Linked DNA regions of Homo sapiens. The protein of the gene in region 1 interacts with the protein of each later gene in a biochemical or structural test. Each region holds a gene or a part of one and is shown on either strand. Other genes may lie near its edges. The genes, in order: GCKR and GCK.

Evidence for each region.
Region 2: the proteins of GCKR (region 1) and GCK form a complex in vitro, tested with the Homo sapiens proteins (2 studies listed by BioGRID and IntAct, with this or other methods).

Annotation. Positions count from the first base shown.
Region 1 is NC_000002.12:27,492,572-27,499,838, reverse strand, and holds the start of GCKR (glucokinase regulatory protein), read right to left. Parts: upstream 3,001-7,267; 5' UTR 2,935-3,000; coding exon 2,875-2,934; intron 2,596-2,874; coding exon 2,440-2,595; intron 2,278-2,439; coding exon 2,209-2,277; intron 1,585-2,208; coding exon 1,516-1,584; intron 1,116-1,515; coding exon 1,042-1,115; intron 698-1,041; coding exon 631-697; intron 443-630; coding exon 389-442; intron 1-388. Other genes in the region: FNDC4 (fibronectin type III domain-containing protein 4 precursor), read left to right, coding at 5,160-5,292, 5,373-5,488, 5,705-5,909, 6,361-6,450, 7,049-7,173. UniProt on the Homo sapiens protein: Regulates glucokinase (GCK) by forming an inactive complex with this enzyme. Acts by promoting GCK recruitment to the nucleus, possibly to provide a reserve of GCK that can be quickly released in the cytoplasm after a meal.
Region 2 is NC_000007.14:44,135,609-44,151,471, reverse strand, and holds the end of GCK (hexokinase-4), read left to right. Parts: intron 1-396; coding exon 397-516; intron 517-1,407; coding exon 1,408-1,503; intron 1,504-1,535; exon of another isoform or gene 1,536-1,612; coding exon 1,613-1,712; exon of another isoform or gene 1,713-1,783; intron 1,784-2,180; exon of another isoform or gene 2,181-2,301; intron 2,302-3,638; coding exon 3,639-3,822; intron 3,823-4,838; exon of another isoform or gene 4,839-4,845; coding exon of another isoform or gene 4,846-4,853; coding exon 4,854-5,009; intron 5,010-5,327; exon of another isoform or gene 5,328-5,345; coding exon of another isoform or gene 5,346-5,398; exon of another isoform or gene 5,399-5,563; intron 5,564-5,741; coding exon 5,742-5,975; intron 5,976-6,191; coding exon 6,192-6,336; 3' UTR 6,337-7,197; downstream 7,198-15,863. Other genes in the region: MYL7 (myosin regulatory light chain 2, atrial isoform), read left to right, coding at 10,167-10,169, 10,398-10,511, 10,616-10,760, 11,045-11,149, 11,612-11,690, 11,903-12,050, 12,450-12,551. UniProt on the Homo sapiens protein: Catalyzes the phosphorylation of hexose, such as D-glucose, D-fructose and D-mannose, to hexose 6-phosphate (D-glucose 6-phosphate, D-fructose 6-phosphate and D-mannose 6-phosphate, respectively).

The DNA.
Region 1 (7,267 bases):
TTACAGTGAGCCGAAATCATGCCATTGCACTCCAGCCTGGGTGACAGAGCGAGACTCCATCTCAAAAACAAACAAACAACAACAACAAAAAACTTTAAAAACAGGCAGCTGGCTGCATTGGCCAGCCAGTATATTTTGCTTACCCCTGGACTAGTCCACCTATCTTGGTTGTTGATTGATTGATACACAGTTATTCTGAAATAGAATCCCTTCCCCATCTTCCCACATTCACACAACTTGATCCAAGTTAGTGAAACTAAAACCAAAATTCCTTGAGCAAACTTCCTGCCTTCTAGCACCGATCTCATTGATCTATCTTCCATGCTATTCCATTCCCACTCACTTCCTCTCTCTAAAATTGATCCACTCAACCCATCTTTTTACTCACAGAGAGTCCCACAGAAATGCCAATGACAATCACTCTCTTCTTCCCGGCAGCCACCTAGGAGAGGAGGATGGACAAGGTAGTGTAACTGGGAGGATTCCAGGGCACAAATCTACTGTGTGAGGATATCAGGGCCAGGAACAGGGGAGGGAGGAAATAGGCTTTGGCTGAATGCTGGGGCTTTTATGTCCCCATGAGAAGGAACAGATAGAGGTCTCTGGTCAATGTCAGTGAAAAGCACAGACCTTCTTCAGTTCCTCAATCCCGTGCAAGGCACTATCTTCTGTCCCCTCCCTAGAGGCCACCACAGACCTAAGAGGACAGACTCAAGGTCAGTGGCAGTGGCTGGAAAGCAGAAGCCTATGGCGTATTAGGGCAGGCTACATTAAGAGATGCGCATAAAGGGAAAACTATCATTGAATGAGCACCCACAGTTTGTTGGTGCATGATAGACACTCCATAGAGTTGAAAAACTCAAATACCTACAACAGCCAGTCAGGCGACATAAGTATGTGAAGTGGGCCAAGTGTGAGGGAATAAGGAATGGTGAGGACTAAGACAAGCCAGACACAATCTCTGTCTAAAGGTATTCCAACTCAATTTCTAAGAAATACTATTTAGGTCAAACAAAATATTCATAGGCTAACTTGGCTTACCTGTCACCACCTGCAATGAGGTAGGTGTAAAGAGGTTTCTGTCCCAGACCTTTCATCAGCTGATTAAAGGACACCTGTCAAGCAGGGAGAGGATGTAAAGAGGTAATGACAGAGAAGAAACAATTATCTTGGATTTTCAACTCCTAGAGGGCAGAGACTATATAATGATTCTCTTAGACCAGTGCTTAACCCAGTCCTACATGGAATCTCGCACTTAAAGCTGCTACTTGGAGATGATTAGTCGGTGGTGCATGGGATGTAGAGACATTGGCAACATACTGGCGGGACTCAGATGGGCTCAGAAGAAATGGGACTTCATGGTGACATCTAGCTTTTGGAAGAGAGAAAGAGCCAGGCTTGGAGTCCAGGTCTAGTGAGGGGGCCACCTGGGAGCTTAGTTATGATGATCTTTATGGTCCTGAGGGTCACCTCCAGAAGTGGAGGGGGAAGAAAACTGGAGACCAGGGTGCTCACCGACATGAGGAATGCCATCCGGCCAGAGGTGCCCCCTCCACTCAGCACAACCAGCCCCCCATCTGGCTCCTGAAGAAGGAAAGAGGCATATATTACCAGGGCCTGGCTCAGGTTGGGAGAAGAATATTCTTTTCTTTGTCAGTAATGCAAGAGGAATTGGAAAGACTCCTTATCCCTCCTCTCATCACAAAATTGAACAAATACATGCAATGTAGTGTAGCAAAAAGAACATTGGATTAGAGAAACCAGTTTGACTCCCATGTCTTGCTCCACTACTTGTTCAAATCCTTACTTCTCCCAGAAAGAACTGAAAGCAGCTTTGTCATCTAAATAAAAGTAAATAATAAAAGCAGCATTATCCAGCAATTATTAGCTCAGTGTATTTGAGCAAGCTACAGTGATTATCCTTTCTAAATCTTTGTTTTTTCATCTGAGGAAAACAAACAGAAGTCATATCAACTTCACAGGCTTTTGTGAGGGTAATAGGTGTGAAAGTAGATTGTCAATTATAAAGTATTAAGCAGAGAAGTTATCATTATTATTTATTAATAAGATGAAAATAAGGATCCAAAAGGGAGGATCTCCAAAAGGGAGAAAGGAGAATGAGATCTATCAAAGTGAGAAATAGAGACAGTAAAAAGAGAAAGAGGGAAACAGAAAAGTTTAGGCAGGGAACAGAAGGAAGGTTAGTACCTTCAGCACTTCCTGAACTTTCCCAGCCACCTGTACCATGGTGGTCAGAATGGATTCGCTGTAGAGTCTCTGTAGGGAATATGCAGGAATGAGAAGCCAAGAAAAGGAGGACGATGAATGGGGGAGGGGGTCTCAGGGTTTCCGATATTAGGAGCCATGGTGAGGGAGAGCAGAGGTGGGGTTGGGGTTGGCATGTTTATTTCCAGGGTCCAGGTCTTGGGTCTTGGTTACCTGGTATGTGGACAGGGCTTGCCCCTCCTCCTGGAAGATCTCAGCATCACATTGCCCTAGCAGTCGAACAATGTTCTCAGCATCTGCTTTGTCTAGATCCTGGGTCAGTGGGTTTGACTTCTCCGTGATTGGCACAGCTGCCTCGTACCCAGACAACTAGAAGGAAGAGGGGACAAGGATGGAGCAGGAAGCCAAAGCCTCATTCATGCCTGCTGAGCTGGAGGTGGGAGTGGCAGCAGGCACAGAGTTTGGACTTACACACACGCACACACATACCACACCAGAAACTCAGCCTGCACTTGGTGCTCTGGGCATATTAGGGAAAGAACATCAGGAAGGAAGAAGAGGTGAGCAGAAACCAGCGGGGAGGGAAGACTGGATGAAAAATAATTCTAGGAATCAGCACAGAAAGCCAACATGAAGAAGGGGTCTCACCTCCCACTTGCCAGGCTCCGGGGTCTCAATGACATGTTGAAACCGTTTTGTGCCTGGCATGGTCCCACGCTGTGGATACACTGTTCCTCCTGCCTCTTCAGCCACACAAACCCCTCTGGTCACAATGACTCTGCTTCCAGTTGGCAGGGCCTTATCTGAGCCCCAGTGATGATTAACCCAAGCACCCTGGGCTCTCAGAGCACCACCCTTTCCTGGTCACTAGGCCCCCAGCCCTCTGGTAACCCCAGGGAAACTCCTGGGCTTCCTCTTTGCAAGCACCCTGACTCGCCAGCCTCTGCTTTGGCCCCTGAAGAGGAAGACCTGAGGCTCGGGACTCTTGCCCTACCGGGACAATGCCCTCTTCTACAGAGGACCTGGAGCCTGGGAGTGCAGGACAACACCCACGGCAGTGAGAATCCCTGGGCAAGTGTCCTCCGAGGCCAGAGATCAGGGTCACCAAGTCAGCACAAGTCAGAGGACCTGGCCCATGGCTTGATCACATGCTCAGCACACACAGTCAGTCCCACTGGTCCCATTTTATCCTCTCCTCTCAGAAAGGAAGGCAGTAGAAGCTTCTGAGCCCCAAGTGTGCACACACTGTACTGGATATTACAGCGGGAAAAATCCCACAGAAACAGAAATACTGCATTGAGAATTAGAAACCAAAGAATCTGCCCTAAATACAATGTTAGCCAACATTTATTTACACTGAACAACACACTTTTCACAGACAGTATCTCATTGGATACACCAACACTAAGATGTTGGTCAATATTGACACCCTCATTTTTCAGATGATGAAACAGGCTCAGAGTAGTTTAGTTGGTTGCTTAAGATCACACAGCTGGACAAATTGGGACTCACACCCAGGTTCTCAATTCAGATTTCAAGCTCAACCAAAGCATGATATAATGTAAGGGCTTACATGTTATTGAACAAAGAAGTAACTAACAGATTGGTGCAAATTAATCTCCATCATCCAGTCACATAGTGTTGTGAGATTTATAAAGATCTTTCCCGTCTCATTTGAGCCTCACAACAACCCTGTGAGATTTCACACGCTTTGCTTTACAGGTGGGAAACCTGAAGCACAGATAAACCAGTTTCTCCAAAACCACACCGTAAGTGGTAGAGCTTTAGAAAAACAAAAAAAGAAAAGAAAGGAATAATAATTTTTTTAAAAAAGCCATAGGTCTTTGCGCTTTGATTCTCCCGAGAAGCCCAACACTCTTAACAATCACTGTATCTCCAGGTTTTAATATAATGCCAGACACATAGGAGATGCTCAATAAATATTTGGTGAATAAATGAAAGAATGAATGAGAAAGCGAACGGAATTAAATGAGATTATGAATGGAAAAGAGACTTAAAAGCTGACGCAGTCTACAAGTAAGGGATTGTTAAAGCAATTATTATCTCCCTCACTCTCTCCCCTCTCCTGTTAGCCCCTCGGGCACTGGAGGTGGAATTCCTCTTCCCAACTTGGCTCTTCCACGCGGGGAGGAAGGGGATCTCCCAGGTGCCGGAGACCCTAGCACCCGCGTCTCACCCCCCACGCCCCCGCCGACTCGTCCGCTTCAGCTGGGAGAGAGAAGGGATAAGGGATGGGGGCTCCGGAGGCGCCATTGGGAGGGTCGTGGGAGGAGCCCCGAGAGGACGGGAGTGAGGGGGCGGGAGGGGAATGACGGCGGCGAGAACCCCGGCTGGGCGGGGCGGGCCCGCGCGTCCCGGCCGGGCTGCGGCGGAGCGAGCGGGGCCAGCGCTGCAGAAGGCGGCGGCTGGCTCTCCGGGACGGTCACATCCCGCTGCAGGGGCGGGCGGAGGCCGCCGCACTGCCTCCCGCACCGGGGACCCAGGCCAGCGTCCGGGCAACGCCCCCTGCTCCCGGACAGACTCCGTGGCCCGCTCGAGCCCTGGGGGCTCCGCAGACCCGCGCCCGCTCCGCCCGCAGCTCGGCCCCGCGCTGCCCGCGTCGCCGGGCCCGCGCCGGGATGGGGTAGGGGCAGCGCCACCGAGTCGGGCGATGGGCCGCCCTCTGGGCACCGAGCAGCCCCCCGAGGCCTGACCAACCGCGAGGACCGGCGGAGGTGGGTGTGGGCAGGGCGGACCGCACTCTGGGGCCGCCCGGGCAATGCGGGGGCGGGAGGGCGTAGAGAAAATAGGGCTGTTGTGAGCTGTGGGGAGCCCAGGAGAGCTGCTGCCCCCCGACCTCCGTGCGTTCTGGGCAGTCCTTGACCCCCCACAACTCCTGCCATCTCCAGGAGCCCCGCCTGGATGTCAAGCGGATGCCAAGCGGATGCCACAGTTCCCCCCCCAGCGGACTCCGTGGGGACATGGCTTCGCTGGTGCCCCTTTCCCCATATCTAAGCCCCACGGTCCTCCTGCTGGTCAGCTGTGACCTGGGCTTCGTGCGAGCAGGTAAGTAAAGGGGAACGGGGCTGAGGGTCAACCACAGCTAGTCAATGGGTGAAACCTGTTAAACACCCTGGCTCCCGCAGACCGGCCTCCCTCTCCTGTGAATGTGACGGTCACTCACCTCAGAGCCAACTCGGCCACTGTGTCCTGGGACGTCCCAGAAGGCAACATCGTCATTGGCTACTCCATTTCCCAGCAAGTATGAATCACCCTTCTGCTCCCCCAACCTGTGTCCTTGGATTTCGGCACATTTCTTCACTTAAGTGGGGGGGATCTGGAAGCTGGCGTATCCTGGCTCAGGCTGCCCTTTTCACGCTACTCCCCCGGAGTGCTTGGATGTTGAAGAGTCTCTGGTTGAGCCTTGTGGCCTGGCACTGGGGTGAGGCTGTCCTCCTCTCCCCTCATCTCCCTGCAGCGGCAGAATGGCCCCGGGCAGCGTGTGATTCGGGAGGTGAACACCACCACCCGGGCCTGTGCCCTCTGGGGCCTGGCTGAAGACAGTGACTACACAGTGCAGGTCAGGAGCATCGGCCTTCGGGGAGAGAGTCCCCCAGGGCCCCGGGTGCACTTCCGAACTCTCAAGGGTTCTGACCGGCTACCTTCAAACAGTTCAAGCCCAGGTGAGGATCTGTGCTATTGGATTCTCTGGCTGCTTACCTGGCTTGCAGCCTCTTACTTACTTCCCCAAGACAAGCAACAGACTAGCTGAGTTGAATAGGATGATTTAATTCATTGTACTGCCAGGAAAGGAAAGAAAAGCAGGTGGGAAGGGGATTGGGTATAGACAGGCTGGTATTGAGTTGTTTGGGGGAAGGCCTTTTAAGCTTCCTGTTACCCAACTTCACATCAGCTGCAGCCTGCATGAGTGAGTAATTAACCTGCAGCCATCCCGCTTTTTGGTCGCTAACCACCTGTCCACCAACGGCTTCCTCCCAGGGAGGGGCTACCCTACACTCCAAGGGCAACATTATGATGGGTCCACCCTTTCTAATCCCCAGCATCTCCATCCTGCATGTCTGCAGTATGGACCCCAGTAACCTGGAGTCTGCCTTCTGCCTTCTCCCTTCTCAGGTGACATCACAGTGGAAGGTCTGGATGGAGAGCGGCCACTGCAGACTGGGGAAGTGGTCATCATTGTGGTGGTGTTGCTCATGTGGGCTGGTGAGTAAGCAGCTAGACAGGGGACCAGGGACTCAGTAAAGGTGTGAGGTGGCAAAGGTTGTCAGGAGAAAAAGAAGTGAGAGATACAGTGGCTCACGCCTGTAATCCCAGCACTTTGGGAGGCCAAGGCAGGCAGATCACCTGAGGTCAGGAGTTTGAGACCAGCCTGGCCAACATGGTGAAACCCGTCTCTACTAAAAATACAAAAATTAGCAGAGTGTGGTGGAGGGCGCCTGTAACCCCAGCTACTCAGGAGGCTGAGGCAGAAGAATTGCTTGAACTCAGGAGGTGGAAGTTGCAGTGAGCGAGCCGAGATCATGCCACTGCACTCCAGCCTGGGCAACAGAACGAGACTCTGTCTCAAAAAAAAAAAAAAAAAAAAAGTAAGAGAAATAGAGTGGAGTGGGGAGATACTTAGTTCAGGAGGGATGATTTGAACTTTGAAGAGAGGGAGAGGAGGCTGTTGAGAGCCCAGAGAGGAGGACTGCATGGGCACCAGGAATTCAGGATGTTCTTCATGGATTTTCTAGAAGCTACGTAGGTATCTCCCTATGAGGGGGGAAGTGGAGATGAAGGCTCAGACTGTATTGTGTTTCAGCTGTAATTGGGCTGTTCTGCCGTCAGTATGACATCATCAAGGACAATGACTCCAACAACAATCCCAAGGAGAAGGGAAAGGGGCCGGAACAGAGTCCTCAGGGAAGGCCAGTGGGGACAAGACAGGTGATGTGGGGGCCAGTGAGGGCGGAAAGGGTGATTCTGCCCCTGAGGGGCAGCCAGGGAAAGGAAGAAGGTCAAAGAGGGGCAGAAAAAGATG
Region 2 (15,863 bases), on another chromosome or scaffold:
AGAAGTAGAAAAGGAGACTCCGGGTGCTGGAGACAGAAATCAAGGATGTGCCTCCATGTGGAGCCTCAGGAATAGCTGGCCAGGCCTGAGGCTGAACCTCACAAGGTTCAGCTGGGAGGGCTAGGCTGACAGAGCACAGCCGGGCCAGGGACCAGCCTGCCCTGTGTTGCCTTGTCCCGAGGGCCACTGTCAGCAGGTCTCTGGCATGGGGGAGGCTTAGGGCCTGAGCCCAACAAGCAGCAGCGGAAGAGGAGAGGGAAACTGTGGACAGGCCTGGCATTCAGTGGCCAGGTGTTGCAGTGTCCCTGAGGAATAGCTTGGCTTGAGGCCGTGGGGAGGGCTGCCGGCCAGCGCACCCCCCCATGCCAGATGGTCACCATGGCGTGCATCTTCCAGCTCTTCGACTACATCTCTGAGTGCATCTCCGACTTCCTGGACAAGCATCAGATGAAACACAAGAAGCTGCCCCTGGGCTTCACCTTCTCCTTTCCTGTGAGGCACGAAGACATCGATAAGGTGGGCCGGGTGGAGGGGCAGAAGGCAGATGAGGGGAGGCACAGGCACCCCAGAGGAACTCTGCCTTCAAATGTAGCCCCCATACCATGTGCTCAGAAGGGAGATCTGGATTCAAATTGTGGCCATGTCACCTGCCACCTCTAATGCTGTGGAAAAGAAGCATCACATTAGCTAATTCTGGCTGTGCGCCTTGTGAGGCACCAGCTATGATCACCCCACTCCAGTGGAAAGAGCAGCTGGCAGTAGGGTGGGGCTCAAACTCAGGCAGCCGGGCTCTGGGTCACCTGCAGGCCACGGTCATGTCACACTGCCTCTAGCTGAGTCAGAAATGTGAAGGAACTGAGATTCTACCCTTCCTGCAAGCTAGCAAAGTGGCCTGCCAGTTACATCTGTGCATGCACACACACACACAGTTATATATGCACACACATAAAACACGAGACCTTTGGGTCAGGGAGAAAGCCAGATCCTCACTCACGGCAGAAGCAGCAGCCAAAGCAACATCTCATGTGGTTTTCCAAGCCCCAGTCCCTACAGAGACAGAGAGGGCCAGGTGGCACCTGTGCATGCAGCGGGGTACCTTGCAGGAGGGAAATCCTGATTTTACACAAAGCTGCTCCCCCCACGCCCTGCCTTGACTCTGGGATGACGTCTCAGAGCTGTGCAGTACAACATTCTTAAATTGGCTGGGACTCAGCCCTGCAGAAATATGATATCTTCAAGGAGAATCGTTCCCAAAACCTCTCAAAGCTATGGGGCTGCTCTGAGCCTGTTTCCTCAGCTGTAAAGTAGGGTGCATACTTTTATGGCCCTGTGCAGGAGGTAGTGACAGGCCCTAGCACCCTGCCTCCAGTATATGTTAGCAGCCACGAGGCCTATCTCTCCCCACAGGGCATCCTTCTCAACTGGACCAAGGGCTTCAAGGCCTCAGGAGCAGAAGGGAACAATGTCGTGGGGCTTCTGCGAGACGCTATCAAACGGAGAGGGGTGAGGGGGCACCTGTACCTGCCGGGGGGGCTGCCCTGGGCCACCCACCCCAGCACTGCCTGCCTTTCTCCTTGGCTTCCAGCACTGCAGCTTCTGTGCTTCTTGGCAGGACTTTGAAATGGATGTGGTGGCAATGGTGAATGACACGGTGGCCACGATGATCTCCTGCTACTACGAAGACCATCAGTGCGAGGTCGGCATGATCGTGGGTAAGGGCTCCTTGCACCCCTGCCCCTTCCAGACTGCTGAGGCTCCCTGTGTACAACAGGCTTCAAGGGCCCTGTGGGGTGAGGACCAAACTACTTAACAACCGGTGATGTCAGAGCAGAGCCTGGTGCTACAGCCTGGGTGGTCTTGGGGTATCAAGATGGAAGCACCGTGTACAGTAGGAAGCATTTCAACGCCATGATGCCACATTCCTGCATCAGATGGTATGCCAGCTGCATATCCACCTCACCCATCAGGATTATAATTAAAACACTTATCTGGTAAATTGACCAACTGGACAGATTGGTCCAAGTGGAAGAGGATAAGCAAAAGTGGTACCATCTCCACCCGAATGGTCTTTCCACGGGCCTGCCCCTGCCCCTGCCCCCACCCAAAGTGAAGGCAGGTACCAGGAAAGGGAGCAGCAGTCCGCCCCTCCCAGCAGAGGGGTCTTCCACACCAACTCGGACCTTTCTCAGAAGTTCCGGAGGTCATTATAACCAGCCTTCACTGAGGAGCAATCCAATCAGATCAGTTATCTGCTGTGCGCACAGCCGTGTGGTTCTATACTTCTCTTACTTCCATTTTCACCTTTCAGAAGGAACGTTGTCTTTAAATCCAGCATCTAAACGTGAGCCCCAGCCATCCCTGGCTGTGATCCCCCCAGCCCTTTCCACCCTATCCTCTGGAACTGCCTGGGGCTCCCCAAGACACTTCCACATGAATTCCCACCAAGCCAAGCTGCAGCTGCTGGGCCCAGGCATAACCCCTCCTGGGGCAGAGGTGGCAAGGAGTGACCCACCACTCACATCTGCCCCACATCCACTCTTGACTCTGCTCAGTGTTTAAAAACATGTTTATAACAATTACCAAGATCTGAAAATTAGGAGAATTCACATCAAAGTCTGGATTTCTGTTTGTTCATAAAAAACTAGAAGGCAGCCAGGCAAGGTGGCTCACGCCAGTAATCCCAACACTTTGGGAGGCTAAGGCAGGCGGGTCACTTGAGGTCAGGATTTGAAGACTAGCTGGCCAACAAGGTGTAACCTCGTCTCTACTAAAAATACAAAAATTAGCTGGGTGTGATGGCGCATGCCTGTAATCCCAGGTACTCAGGAGACTGAGGCAGGAGAATTGCTTAAACCCTGGAGGCAGAGGTTGCAGTGAGCCAAGATCACGCCACTGCACTCCAGCCTGGGTGATGGAGTGAGTGAGACTCTGTCTCCAAATAAATAAATAAATAAATAAAAACTGGAAGTCTAAGCATCACTGAGCCCTGATTCCTATGTGGCAGCTCGACTGACCAGCATTTGAGTTGCTGTCCCTGACAGCTTTGGGGGTGTGCAGCCCACACAGTCATGCTAGCTTGAGGCTCTGCTGTCAGCAGTTTGAAACTCTTAATAACTTGTGAACAAAAGACTCCATGTTGTCACTCTGCACAGGGGCCAGCAAATTACAAAATTCCATATCCGGAATTGTCTACAGGAGCCTCTGGGCTGCTCCCAAGGGCCCACACCATGCCTTACTCACTTTGGGTTGCCATCCAAACATGTCTCATGACAAAGAAGCTCAAACATGTGCATGGACAGTGCCAGAAAACAAGGGTCGTACATAGACAAAATAAAATGATAACGTCCCACAACCATTTCTTTGATACACACTGTTTCTCTCAGTCCTCCCAACCACCTAGGTAACAGGCAGGGAAGGTGTTACTGTTGCCTGTTAGGAAAGAGGACAGCCCTGAAAGCTGTCCCTGGCCACTGAAGCAACCCAGGTCTTCCAGCCCCAGGGAGAGCCGCCTTTCCATTGTTCCAGACAAAGCAGAGACAGGCATGGGGGAGCGGGAGAGGGACTCCTGTGGGCAGGAACCAGGCCCTACTCCGGGGCAGTGCAGCTCTCGCTGACAGTCCCCCCGACCTCCACCCCAGGCACGGGCTGCAATGCCTGCTACATGGAGGAGATGCAGAATGTGGAGCTGGTGGAGGGGGACGAGGGCCGCATGTGCGTCAATACCGAGTGGGGCGCCTTCGGGGACTCCGGCGAGCTGGACGAGTTCCTGCTGGAGTATGACCGCCTGGTGGACGAGAGCTCTGCAAACCCCGGTCAGCAGCTGTAAGGATGCCCCCCTCCCCCACAACCCAGGCCCTGGGCCGCTCTGGTGCAGCGGCAGATGGGAGCCGGGCCATTGCAGATAATGGGCTTGTTTTTAAACAACTCTGGGGAAAAGCAAACTGACAATCCGTTCGTAAGCTCCATCCCTTCTGCTCAGTCATGACCTGCCCCTGTGAGAGATGAAGGGTTAGTCCCAGTTGTGATGTGATAAGCCCAGACCTCTTTCCTTCCGACAGGTGATCGTGCATGCAGAGGAGGCTCTGAGACGCCCCCAGCAAGGTTCCTGGGTTTAACCCAACATTCCCCAAAGTATGTATTTGGCCACATTCACAGAAAGAATATTAGTCTTTTGTGGAATGCTGCGGGTTGACAGTCACAGCTTGGAAACCAACCCACAGAGAGCTCATCATTAATCATGGCTATCACTTGTTTACCACCTACTGTGCCAGGCCTATGCTAATTACTTTATTAGCGTCCTCTCTGCCGCTCGCAGGCCTCTATTATTATAGGTCAGTAGTATTCGATTTATTTAAATTAAATACGGAAGGTCATAGATTAAGCAAGAAAGTGCCAGCAACATGGTGCGTGCCTCTGACTGGGCACTAACCCTCCAAGTCTTAGTTTTCCCAACCATAACTGGCCAATGAACAGCAGCTCTGGATGCAGCTAAAGGAAGACTGAAGCTGTAGGTCCCGTGCTCGGCGCAGGGCCCCCTGCAAGGAAGGTTTCGGAGGGACTGGATGGGGTCTTTGAACTATCTGTCTTTCCCTTTACTGCAGTGGGCCCAGGGGCAGGCCAAAGTTGCTCCCGTGATTGACTTGAACGTGCACGTTCCTAATCCCTGACATTTCTAAAGCTCTGGCTCATTAACGAGGGAAAGACGTGAACCAGCTGGGGGAGTGGGGATCGCAGTGCCCCACGTGGCCGCCTCGTGACCTCAGTGGGGAGCAGTGGGGCCGGCTCCCGGCTTCCACCTGCATGAGGGGCCCTCCCTCGTGCCTGCTGATGTAATGGACCTGCCCTATGTCCAGGTATGAGAAGCTCATAGGTGGCAAGTACATGGGCGAGCTGGTGCGGCTTGTGCTGCTCAGGCTCGTGGACGAAAACCTGCTCTTCCACGGGGAGGCCTCCGAGCAGCTGCGCACACGCGGAGCCTTCGAGACGCGCTTCGTGTCGCAGGTGGAGAGGTGTGCGGAGGAGGAGGGTGGGTGCAAAGGGCAGGGGCTGGGGACGCCCGGGCACTGCAGACTTGGTCTCAGGGCGACGCTGAGTCCCAGGCCCGGGGCGCAGGGATGGGAAACTAGGGCCTGGGGCGGGATTCCGGGCGTGGGCGGGGCCCGGGGCGGGGCACAGGGGGCGGGGGAGTGGGCGGGGCCCGAGGCCGGGCGCTGGAGGCGAGGGCGGGGCAGGGACGGGTCCAAGGGCAGGAGGCTGGGACAGGACGGGGATGCAAAGGGAGGGGCGGGGCCCGAGACGGGGAGGAGGGGGAGGGCCCAAGGGGAGGAGGCGGGGTCCGGACGGGGATGCCAAGAGCAGGGATGGGAGCGAGCCTGCGTCCGGGCACTGGTCCCCATCCGTGAGTCCCCTCGGTGCTCCCTGCCCGCCGTGGCCATCCTCTCACATCACTCACAACCCCAAGGCGCGGCATGGTTGACACCCCCACGTTAGGACGGAGACCCTGGGCTTAGTTAGAGGGGGCAGTACTAACCAGTCCCTGGCGGAAACGCTTTGGCTGGGTGAGGTGAGCGGGATCGCCCCCATTTCTCCAGAGAGGGGTCCCGGCTCAGCGAGGGAAAGAGGCCGCCGCTGGGGGGACGGCTGGCCGGGGCCCCTCCCTGGAGAACGAGAGGCCGCCGCTGGAGGGGGATGGACTGTCGGAGCGACACTCAGCGACCGCCCTACCTCCTCCCGCCCCGCAGCGACACGGGCGACCGCAAGCAGATCTACAACATCCTGAGCACGCTGGGGCTGCGACCCTCGACCACCGACTGCGACATCGTGCGCCGCGCCTGCGAGAGCGTGTCTACGCGCGCTGCGCACATGTGCTCGGCGGGGCTGGCGGGCGTCATCAACCGCATGCGCGAGAGCCGCAGCGAGGACGTAATGCGCATCACTGTGGGCGTGGATGGCTCCGTGTACAAGCTGCACCCCAGGTGAGCCCGCCCCGCTCTCTCCCTGGTAAAGTGGGGCCCAAAAAGCGCGCGCTCCAAGGTTCCTTGCGGTTCCCAAGCTCCAAGATTTCGTAGTCCTCTTCTCGTCCCCCTTGGCCTAGATTTGGGGGAAGGGTCGACTGCGTGCAGGGCGCCCGGTAATGAATGTGGAGGATGAGGTGGGAGGAGGGACGGCAGCCCTGCTTCTCTTCTGCCCAGCTTCAAGGAGCGGTTCCATGCCAGCGTGCGCAGGCTGACGCCCAGCTGCGAGATCACCTTCATCGAGTCGGAGGAGGGCAGTGGCCGGGGCGCGGCCCTGGTCTCGGCGGTGGCCTGTAAGAAGGCCTGTATGCTGGGCCAGTGAGAGCAGTGGCCGCAAGCGCAGGGAGGATGCCACAGCCCCACAGCACCCAGGCTCCATGGGGAAGTGCTCCCCACACGTGCTCGCAGCCTGGCGGGGCAGGAGGCCTGGCCTTGTCAGGACCCAGGCCGCCTGCCATACCGCTGGGGAACAGAGCGGGCCTCTTCCCTCAGTTTTTCGGTGGGACAGCCCCAGGGCCCTAACGGGGGTGCGGCAGGAGCAGGAACAGAGACTCTGGAAGCCCCCCACCTTTCTCGCTGGAATCAATTTCCCAGAAGGGAGTTGCTCACTCAGGACTTTGATGCATTTCCACACTGTCAGAGCTGTTGGCCTCGCCTGGGCCCAGGCTCTGGGAAGGGGTGCCCTCTGGATCCTGCTGTGGCCTCACTTCCCTGGGAACTCATCCTGTGTGGGGAGGCAGCTCCAACAGCTTGACCAGACCTAGACCTGGGCCAAAAGGGCAGCCAGGGGCTGCTCATCACCCAGTCCTGGCCATTTTCTTGCCTGAGGCTCAAGAGGCCCAGGGAGCAATGGGAGGGGGCTCCATGGAGGAGGTGTCCCAAGCTTTGAATACCCCCAGAGACCTTTTCTCTCCCATACCATCACTGAGTGGCTTGTGATTCTGGGATGGACCCTCGCAGCAGGTGCAAGAGACAGAGCCCCCAAGCCTCTGCCCCAAGGGGCCCACAAAGGGGAGAAGGGCCAGCCCTACATCTTCAGCTCCCATAGCGCTGGCTCAGGAAGAAACCCCAAGCAGCATTCAGCACACCCCAAGGGACAACCCCATCATATGACATGCCACCCTCTCCATGCCCAACCTAAGATTGTGTGGGTTTTTTAATTAAAAATGTTAAAAGTTTTAAACATGGCCTGTCCACTGTTCTTTGACTTCTGTGCATTAGGACTGTGGGGACAATCTATAAAGAGTCTGCGTCACATGCATGAAGACACTTCAGTATCTCGGCAATGCCCTCCAGACAGCTCCTCCAGCCATCTGTGCCAAGGGGAGTGTGAGGAGTGACAGACCAGGCTGTAGGAACAGGAATGGGGTGTCATGGGGGATGGCAGAGCAGTGGACAGTACACTGCCTGGCCCGGGCCCCTGCTTGCCTGCCCATGGAATGTGTGCAGAGGGAGTGCCAGGCCAGGTGCTGCTCTGGAGAAGTGGGGGAATGAGGCTGGTCCTGCTGCAGGTCAGTCTCAGCACCGTCCTGTCCAGTCAGAGTCACTTAGGTTTGCCAGTGAGTAGGGGCCCAGATACATGTTGGATTTCTAAGGTCCCTCCAGATGCTCCTGTCAGTGGAACGCCTATTTAGAGTTAGCCAAGCGTAGGCATAATGCCATCTTTCTGCAGCATAAAATACAGTGACATAGAAACATATTTGTGTGATTTTCATGCATTCCTTTTTTGATGAGAGATATTACCCAGCTAATTAGGAACAACTGTTTTGTTTCCTTCAGATCATAACCCAAAGTTGTGATTTTGAAAAGTCATGTCCCCCTTCAGATTTCTTGTTTTCTGCTACTTCTCATGTGGAATTGCTTTGGCTCTTCTTAGTTCTCTTGAGTCTAAATTATTCCTTATAAGTTGGTGCAAGCATCTGATTATTTTGTTATCATTACTGTTATGCTCAAGCATTCACAGAGTGGAACACATTTTAATATCAATTGCTTTCTATTTCTCCTTTATATTACAGTTCAGGACATTGTATTAATTATTAAAATTCTATTCGTAGGTAGGTTATATGACTGAATTGAAATAGATAAAATGAATTTCTTTTCTAGATAACAAAGGAGGTGTCATAAAACACTTGTTATGGGCCAGTGTGATGGCTCATGCCTATAATCTCAGTGCTTTGAGAGGCTGAGGTGGAGGATTGCTTGAGGCCAGGAATTTGAGACCAGCCTGGGGCAACATAGCAAGACCCCATCTCTTAAAAAAAAAAGGGTGGGGCGGGGGGGCACTGCTGGGCGCGGTGGCTCATGCCTGTAATCCCAGCACTTTGGGAAGCCAAAGCAGGTGGATCAAAAGGTCAGGAGTTCGAGATCAGCCTGGCCAACATGGTGAAACCCCAACTCTACTAAAAATACAAAAATTAGCCGGGCATGATGGCGGGTGCTTATAATCCCAGCTACTCAGGAGGCTGAGGCAGAAGAATTGCTTGAACCCAGGAGGCGGAGGTTGCAGTGAGCAGAGATTGCACCACTGCACTCCAGCCTGGGCAACAGAGCGAAACTCTGTCTCAAAAATGAATTAATTAATTAAAAAAAGAAAAAAAAAACACTGGGCAGGGTGGTGTGCACCTGTAGTCCCAACTACTCCAGAGGCTGAGGCAGGAAGGAGCACTTGAGCCCAGGAGGTTGTCTGCAGTGAGCTCTACTCATGCCACTGCACTCCAGCCTGGGTGACAGAGCTCAGTGGCTTACACCTGTAATCCTAGCACTTTGGGAGGCTGAAGCAGGCAGATCACCTAAGATCAGGAGTTCGAGACCGGCTGGCCAACATGATAAAACCCCGTCTTTACTAAAAATAAAATAAAATAAAAAATATATATAAAAATTAGCTGGGTGTGGTGGCACATGCCTATAATCCCAGCTGCTTGGGAGGCTGAGGAACAAGAATGGCTTGAACCCGGGAGGCAGAGGTGGCAGTGAGCTGAGATCGCGCCACTGCACTCCAGCCTGTGCGAGAGTGAGACTCTGTCTCAAAAAAAAAAAAGGGAATTTAAGAAATTTAAAAGAAAACTCTTGTTATATAAAAAGGGTATTGGGTCTGACAGATAAGAGCTCCTGCACTCTACCAGCCAGCTACTGACAGACATAGGTCTGGCTCCAGTGGAGGGGCAGCAGCCAGTGAGCCCAGCCTGGGGTGGCCCACTCCTGCTGCCTCCAGGATGTCCCCTGTTTCCCCAGCCCCTCTGCTGTGCCCTCGGCCCCAGAAGCTGGCGAGACTGCTTCTCTGGAACAGCATCACGCAGGCCTGCCCATCGGCCCACTGTGCACCAGGCCTTCTGGGGATACAGATGTCAACCAGGTGGGGTGCTCAGGAGGGGCACAGAAGCCAGGAATGACAAACACATCAGCCACCAGGCAAATGGGAAATGTGCCCCAGAAGCTCCCTGCTGAGGATGTTAGGGAGAGCATTCTGAAGTAGTGTGGTTGAGATGAGGCTTGAGGAAGGCAAGGCTCCAAACAGCAGGGCAGACTGGGAGCAAGGTAGACTGCATGGGAGGGCAGCTGATGGAGCTCCTTAACCCTCTGGAATTGCCCCAAAGCCAAGCAAAGTGTTCTTCTTGGGGTCACAGCTAGCTCAGGGATGCCTTCTGCCCCTTGGTCAGAGGGGCAAAAGGTCAGAGCCTAGGGTCACCAAAACCTCTGGGAAGCCCCGGGGGTCTCAGGCCACAGACCATCCTCAGAACTACACACTGCCCTCCCATGCCTGGCGGGGGCCCTGGACTGGCCCTCACCAGCTGTCTTCTTGCACTGGCCAGGGTTCTGGCTGGACTGGCAAGGAGGGGTGGTCAGATACAGGAGTAACTGGATCCCTTCATCAGGACCTAGGGTGGTGAGAGCTTTGAGCCTGCTCTGCTCCAGGCAGACATTGTGTCTGGCCCTGCCAGGATGGATAGACAGCAGGATGTTACACGTTGAGGACATGAAGGTCATCAGGAATGTGGCTGGAATCTGTTAGGCCTCCCCCAGCCCAGGCGGGGGCTGCCAAGTTTGGGCCTATCCTCTGTTCCTCTCCTTATTTGGACCTTCAGGTGATAAGGCTGAGACATAAAGGAGGCTGGGCCCTGCCACCACGACAGCAGCCACACCTCTGCAGAGAGAATGGTGAGTGCCTGCTGGGGAAGAAAGGCTAGCGGTCTCCCAGGTGCTGGCCTTTGGGCTGGGGGAGCAGAGTTTTCTGTGCTTGTGTTGGGTTGAGGGTGGTCCCCAGGGAGAGGAAGAGGATCCTGGCCCTGGCTCTCCTGGGAATGCTCTGGGACTGTGCATGATGGGTGGGGTGGGGAGACTCTGAGGAGTTGGGGAGAGGACCCCTCCCTACTCACAGTGTTGCAGGCCAGCAGGAAGGCGGGGACCCGGGGCAAGGTGGCAGCCACCAAGCAGGCCCAACGTGGTTCTTCCAACGTCTTTTCCATGTTTGAACAAGCCCAGATACAGGAGTTCAAAGAAGTGAGTGCCCACTCCCAGTAGCCTCAGATCCCATCCTGGCCCCCCCACCCCACCCCACATACATACCCCCCTTCTACCCTGACCTTGCCTCTCACACCACCCAGGTCTCTCCCCCACCTCCCACCTTCCCTAGAGCTGGGGGCTGCTCCCACCTGAAGGCCCCCATCCCACAGGCCTTCAGCTGTATCGACCAGAATCGTGATGGCATCATCTGCAAGGCAGACCTGAGGGAGACCTACTCCCAGCTGGGTGCGTGCACCCACCTCCCACCCTGCGCACTGGGGTCCCTACTCTGAGCTGCTGGGCGGGTGGGAGTGGCTGGGGGGACAGGACTCTGCTCCCCTGCTTCCCCTCCTCCCCGTCTCCTCACACTGCCCTTCCCCCCTTGTCACGCCTTGCTTCCACTTCACCTTCCCGACCCACAGCTGCCTCTGCCCCTCCAGCCCCTGTGGCCAGGATGGAGGGAGGGCGGCCTGGGCCTTCTGGGGGACACCCAGGGTCCCTGTGTGCACCTCATGCCCCACCCCCACCAGGGAAGGTGAGTGTCCCAGAGGAGGAGCTGGACGCCATGCTGCAAGAGGGCAAGGGCCCCATCAACTTCACCGTCTTCCTCACGCTCTTTGGGGAGAAGCTCAATGGTGAGCCTGGGACAGAGCTGGGCACCCTTGGCCAGGCAGGGAGCCTGCACCCTGCCTGAACCCCACCTGAACCCTGCCTGAACCCCACCTGAACCTTACATGAACCCCACCTGAACCCTAACTGAACCCCACCTGGACCCACCTGGACTCTTCCTGGCCATGACCCATTCCAAGCACATCCTCTGCCCCAGAATCCCATGTGCACTGGTCACCCCAGTGCTGACTTGGAGCCAGGAAATGTGCCTTCAGCCCCCACCCCCAAATTCCAGTCTCCCAGCCAAGCTGCCCGCCTCAGGAGGATGACCATTCCCAGCCCCACTGATCCCCGAGAAACATTTTATGTTAGGGAATACCCCCACCTCTTCTGGGATGTGGGAGGCTCCTCATGCAGCCCAGTTCCTCCTGCGGGGGACCTGGGATGCTGGAGACATGGATGCTCACCTGGCTGCCTCGGCCTTCCAGGGACAGACCCCGAGGAAGCCATCCTGAGTGCCTTCCGCATGTTTGACCCCAGCGGCAAAGGGGTGGTGAACAAGGATGAGTAAGTATGGGCCCAGCCAGATGAGGAGCACCGTGGTGGAAGCAGAGAGCGGGGTGAGGCCCCTAGTGAGGGGGGCTGCCTGTGCTTCGGGGCCTTACACTGCTCTTTGGGGTGCAGCCAACCCTTCCCTGCGCCATGGGAGCCTCCGTACCCACCTTCCCTGTGCAGTCACTCCCCCGCAGTCTCCTGCTCAGACCCTCCTCACCCCCCAGGTTCAAGCAGCTTCTCCTGACCCAGGCAGACAAGTTCTCTCCAGCTGAGGTGAGGCTGCCCAGCCCCTTCAATACTCATCCCCAGCACCTTCTCTGGGCCTTCACCCATGACCCAGAGCCCAGTACCAGTGAGGCAGTTGCTGGAAGGGTGAGCCGAGGGCCCTTCTGGAGGAGGTGCCATCTCTGTTGAGACCTAGAGGGTAAAGATGTGGAGTCAGAAAAGAGGGCAGGGTGCGCCAGGCAGGGAGACTGTGCACAGACCTGGGGGGAAGTGGATAGGGAGAGGTTTCGTACACTCGGGGTGGGCCTGTGCCTGTGGCTGGAGGGGCGTCCTTTGCCTCTTGGCCCACATTTGCACTGACTCCTCACTCTGCCCAGAGTCAGCCAAGAGAAAAACATTAACCCAGAGTCTGGGGTCTAGGGTTGAAAAGCTAAGGCAAAAAGCACAGATGCAGGGGGCAGACAGAAAGGCCACAGGACTCAGGTGAGGTCTCTGCCGGGCTGGGCCAGGAGCCAGGGGACTGCCACTCACCAGTGTCCCCTGCAGGTGGAGCAGATGTTCGCCCTGACACCCATGGACCTGGCGGGGAACATCGACTACAAGTCACTGTGCTACATCATCACCCATGGAGACGAGAAAGAGGAATGAGGGGCAGGGCCAGGCCCACGGGGGGGCACCTCAATAAACTCTGTTGCAAAATTGGAATTGCTGTGGTGTCTTGTCTGTGACAGATGGGTTGGGGACCAGCCAAGGGGGATCCCAGGGTCTCAGTGCGCACATCACCATGATCATGGCCACCATCTACCTCCTGGGAGCTGGCCCCTCGCCAGCTCACCTTGATTCACTCCCATGATGCCAAGTGAAGTGTGAACTATGATCATGCCTAGTTTACAGATGAGGACACTGAGGCCCAGAAAGTGTGAGCATCTTACCAAGGCCAGCCCTCTAGAAGAGGAGATGGTGGGATTTACACCACCTCCACCAAGCCCAGGAATGAGCCACAAAGTGGGCACTGCCCAGCTACTTGGGGCTGTGCAGAGAAGAGGCTGCTTGCTGGGCACTCAGCAAACTCTGCCCAACAGCCCAGCGGGTGGGCAGCAGCCCTGGGACCCCCACACCCAACCACACAGCCTCCCCTGGCCCACTGCTCGCACCCCATCTCAATACACTGGCTTGGGTGCCTCCCTGCATGGGCCCTTTGTGAAAGGCAGAGAGGTACCCATTTGAAACACAACCAGCTTCTCATTGCAAATACAGGCAAGGCACTAAGACATGAGGAACATGGACACCAAAGCAGGGGCCAGGTAACATGCAAATTTCTAGAGGAAATGCCCAGAACCTGGCATCATGCCTCCTGAGCCCCTCATGCGCCGTGAGGGGTAAGAGGGTCAGACAGCTGGAGTGTAGGGAGACGACTTCTCAGGAGAGAATAGTTAGTGCTCCCGTCACCCTTCATCTGAGAACCCAAGAGCTAGAGGAGAAAGTGATCCTCATGAGTACCAGAGGAGCAGCAGGGGACATCCAAAGCACCAGAGAGAGAAACAGAGACAGAGAGACAGGCAGTGACAGCTCAAACCTCAGCCAGATCCAGAGCATACAAAGTCTCCTGCCTACAGGACAGCCCAGTAAGAGCTCTCAGCTTGCCTCCTTCCCTCCCCACAAGCCCTGCTGCAATCCCTGTACCTGGGGGTCAGTGGGAAGGAGGTGAGCGAGAAAGGAGGGGCACCCCTTCCTGAAGGCCCCAAGAGGAAAGGCGTTTTCACCCAGACAGGTGTTCAGTTTTGATTTTATCTGGCGCCTGGCAATTTAATTACTAAATTGAAACTTGAGACTTTCTGGAATTATGGCATTTTCTGTTGCTTAGAGAGATTACAAAAGTCACGAACTGCCTGAGTTTCCATCCTGAAAGCAGGCCACCAGCCCACTCCACTGACCATGCTGGAACAGTGGATGAACAAAATCAAGTACCATTAGGATTCTACCACATGAGTCTGCTTGTTCAACAAGCTGATTTCATAAAGTAAGGGATCATGTTATAATCCAAGCTCTACAGGGGTAAATTGTGAAAGACTAAAATGAACCAAAAAGATCATAGGTGTCCAGTTATCTGATTTGATGGGGTGTCTGAACCTTTTGTTATCTTTGAGCTGTTTCAAAACTCTCTAAATTATTATTATTATTTTTGAGACAGAGTCTCTCTCTGTCACCCAGGCTGGAGTGCAGTGGCATGATCTCAGCTCACTGCAACCTCCACCTCCCAGGTTCAAGTGATTCTCATGCCTCACCCTCCCAAGTAGCTAGTATTACAGATGGGCACACCTTGCCTGGCTAATTTTTGTATTTTTAATAGAGACGTGGTTTCACCATGTTAGCCAGGCTGGTCTCGAACTCCTGACCTCCGTTGATCCACCTGCCTCTGCCTCCCAAAGTGCTGGGATTACAGGGGTGAGCCACCGTGCCCTGCCACAACTCTAAATTATAACTAATAGCAAGGCAATGGTTCTTCTCTATTAACGTGCAAATAAATGTTGTCCAGTGGAAGCACAACTGATTTTTCCCTTCTCTGTGGAAGAAGCCAATTTTGCATCTATTAAGCAAATTCATCTGGGCATTCCTAACCGTCTACACATGCACCGGCTCTTTGAATTCTTCTCTGAACCAGGCCCAGGAATAAGCCACAAGATGAGCACTGCCCAGCTCCTTGGGCTGTCACATCTTATTGATTCCCACATGAATTCACAAGTAAATAAAATATTTGGCGGTTGTTCACTTAGTATGCAAGTCAATATTTTGCTTTAAAAATATTATCCTTTCACACTCCTGATATAGTTGTCTGATAAGGTTAGTCCTTCCCACACCAAAACTGCCTGTATTAGTGTTGTTTGGAATAAACTGAGGGTAGAATGTATATGGTGTGTGTATGTGGTGTGTGTGTTTGTGTGTGTGTGTGTGTGAGAGAGAGAGAGAGACAAAAGAGAGAGACAGAAGGATAGAGAGAAACAGATGGGCACAGACCCAGGACATGAGTTCAGCCTACACTGACCAATATGACAGCCACTGGCCACTTGAAATGTGGTGTGAGTTGGGATATGCCAAAAGTGTAAAATGCACACAATATTTTGAAGATTTCATACAAAAAAGAATGCAAACATCTCATTAATAACTTTTATATAGATCACATGTTGAAATGATAATGTTTTGGATATTAGATTATTACTAAAATTAATTTCACCTATTTCTTTTCACTTTTTAAATGTGGCTACTAGAATATTTAGAATTCCATAAGTGGCTTGCATTTCTGGCTTTCACTCCTGTTGGAAAGCACTGAGTTAGACTGTGTAGTACGTCTATTTAAGACTGCAGTTTCCAGGCCGAACACCGTGGCTCACGCCTATAATCCCAGCACTTTGGGAGGCCGAGGCGGGCAGATCACCTGAGGTCAGGAGTTTGAGATAAGCCTGGCTAACGTGGTGAAACCCTGTCTCTACTAAAAATACAGAAATTAGCCAGGTGTGGTAGTGCATGCCTGTAGTCCCAGCTACTAGGGAGGCTGAGGCAGGAGAATCTCTTGAACCCAGAAGGGGAGGTTGCAGTGAGCCAAGATCAAGCCACTGCACTCCAGCCTAGATGACAGAGCAAGACTCCATCTCAAAAAAAAAAAAGTAGAATAAAAATAAATAAATAAATAAAGACTGCAGTTTCTGGGAGACTCTGAGGCAGGCATTAGCCTTCTCTGCAGAGAGTACTTGCAGCAGGGAGCAGCAGTTTTGATGTCCTCAAAAGGAGCCAATTTCATTTGGGTAGGGTTGCCTCTGAGTATTCTAGCAGTACAGACAGAAAGGAGAGAAGGCTGTTTCCAGAAAGCAGAGATCATACGAATTACTTGTGAGACCAAACTTGTTCCTCAGGTGAAGCTCAGGCATCCCTTATGTGGAGTGTCTAACAGTCTACACCTGAGGA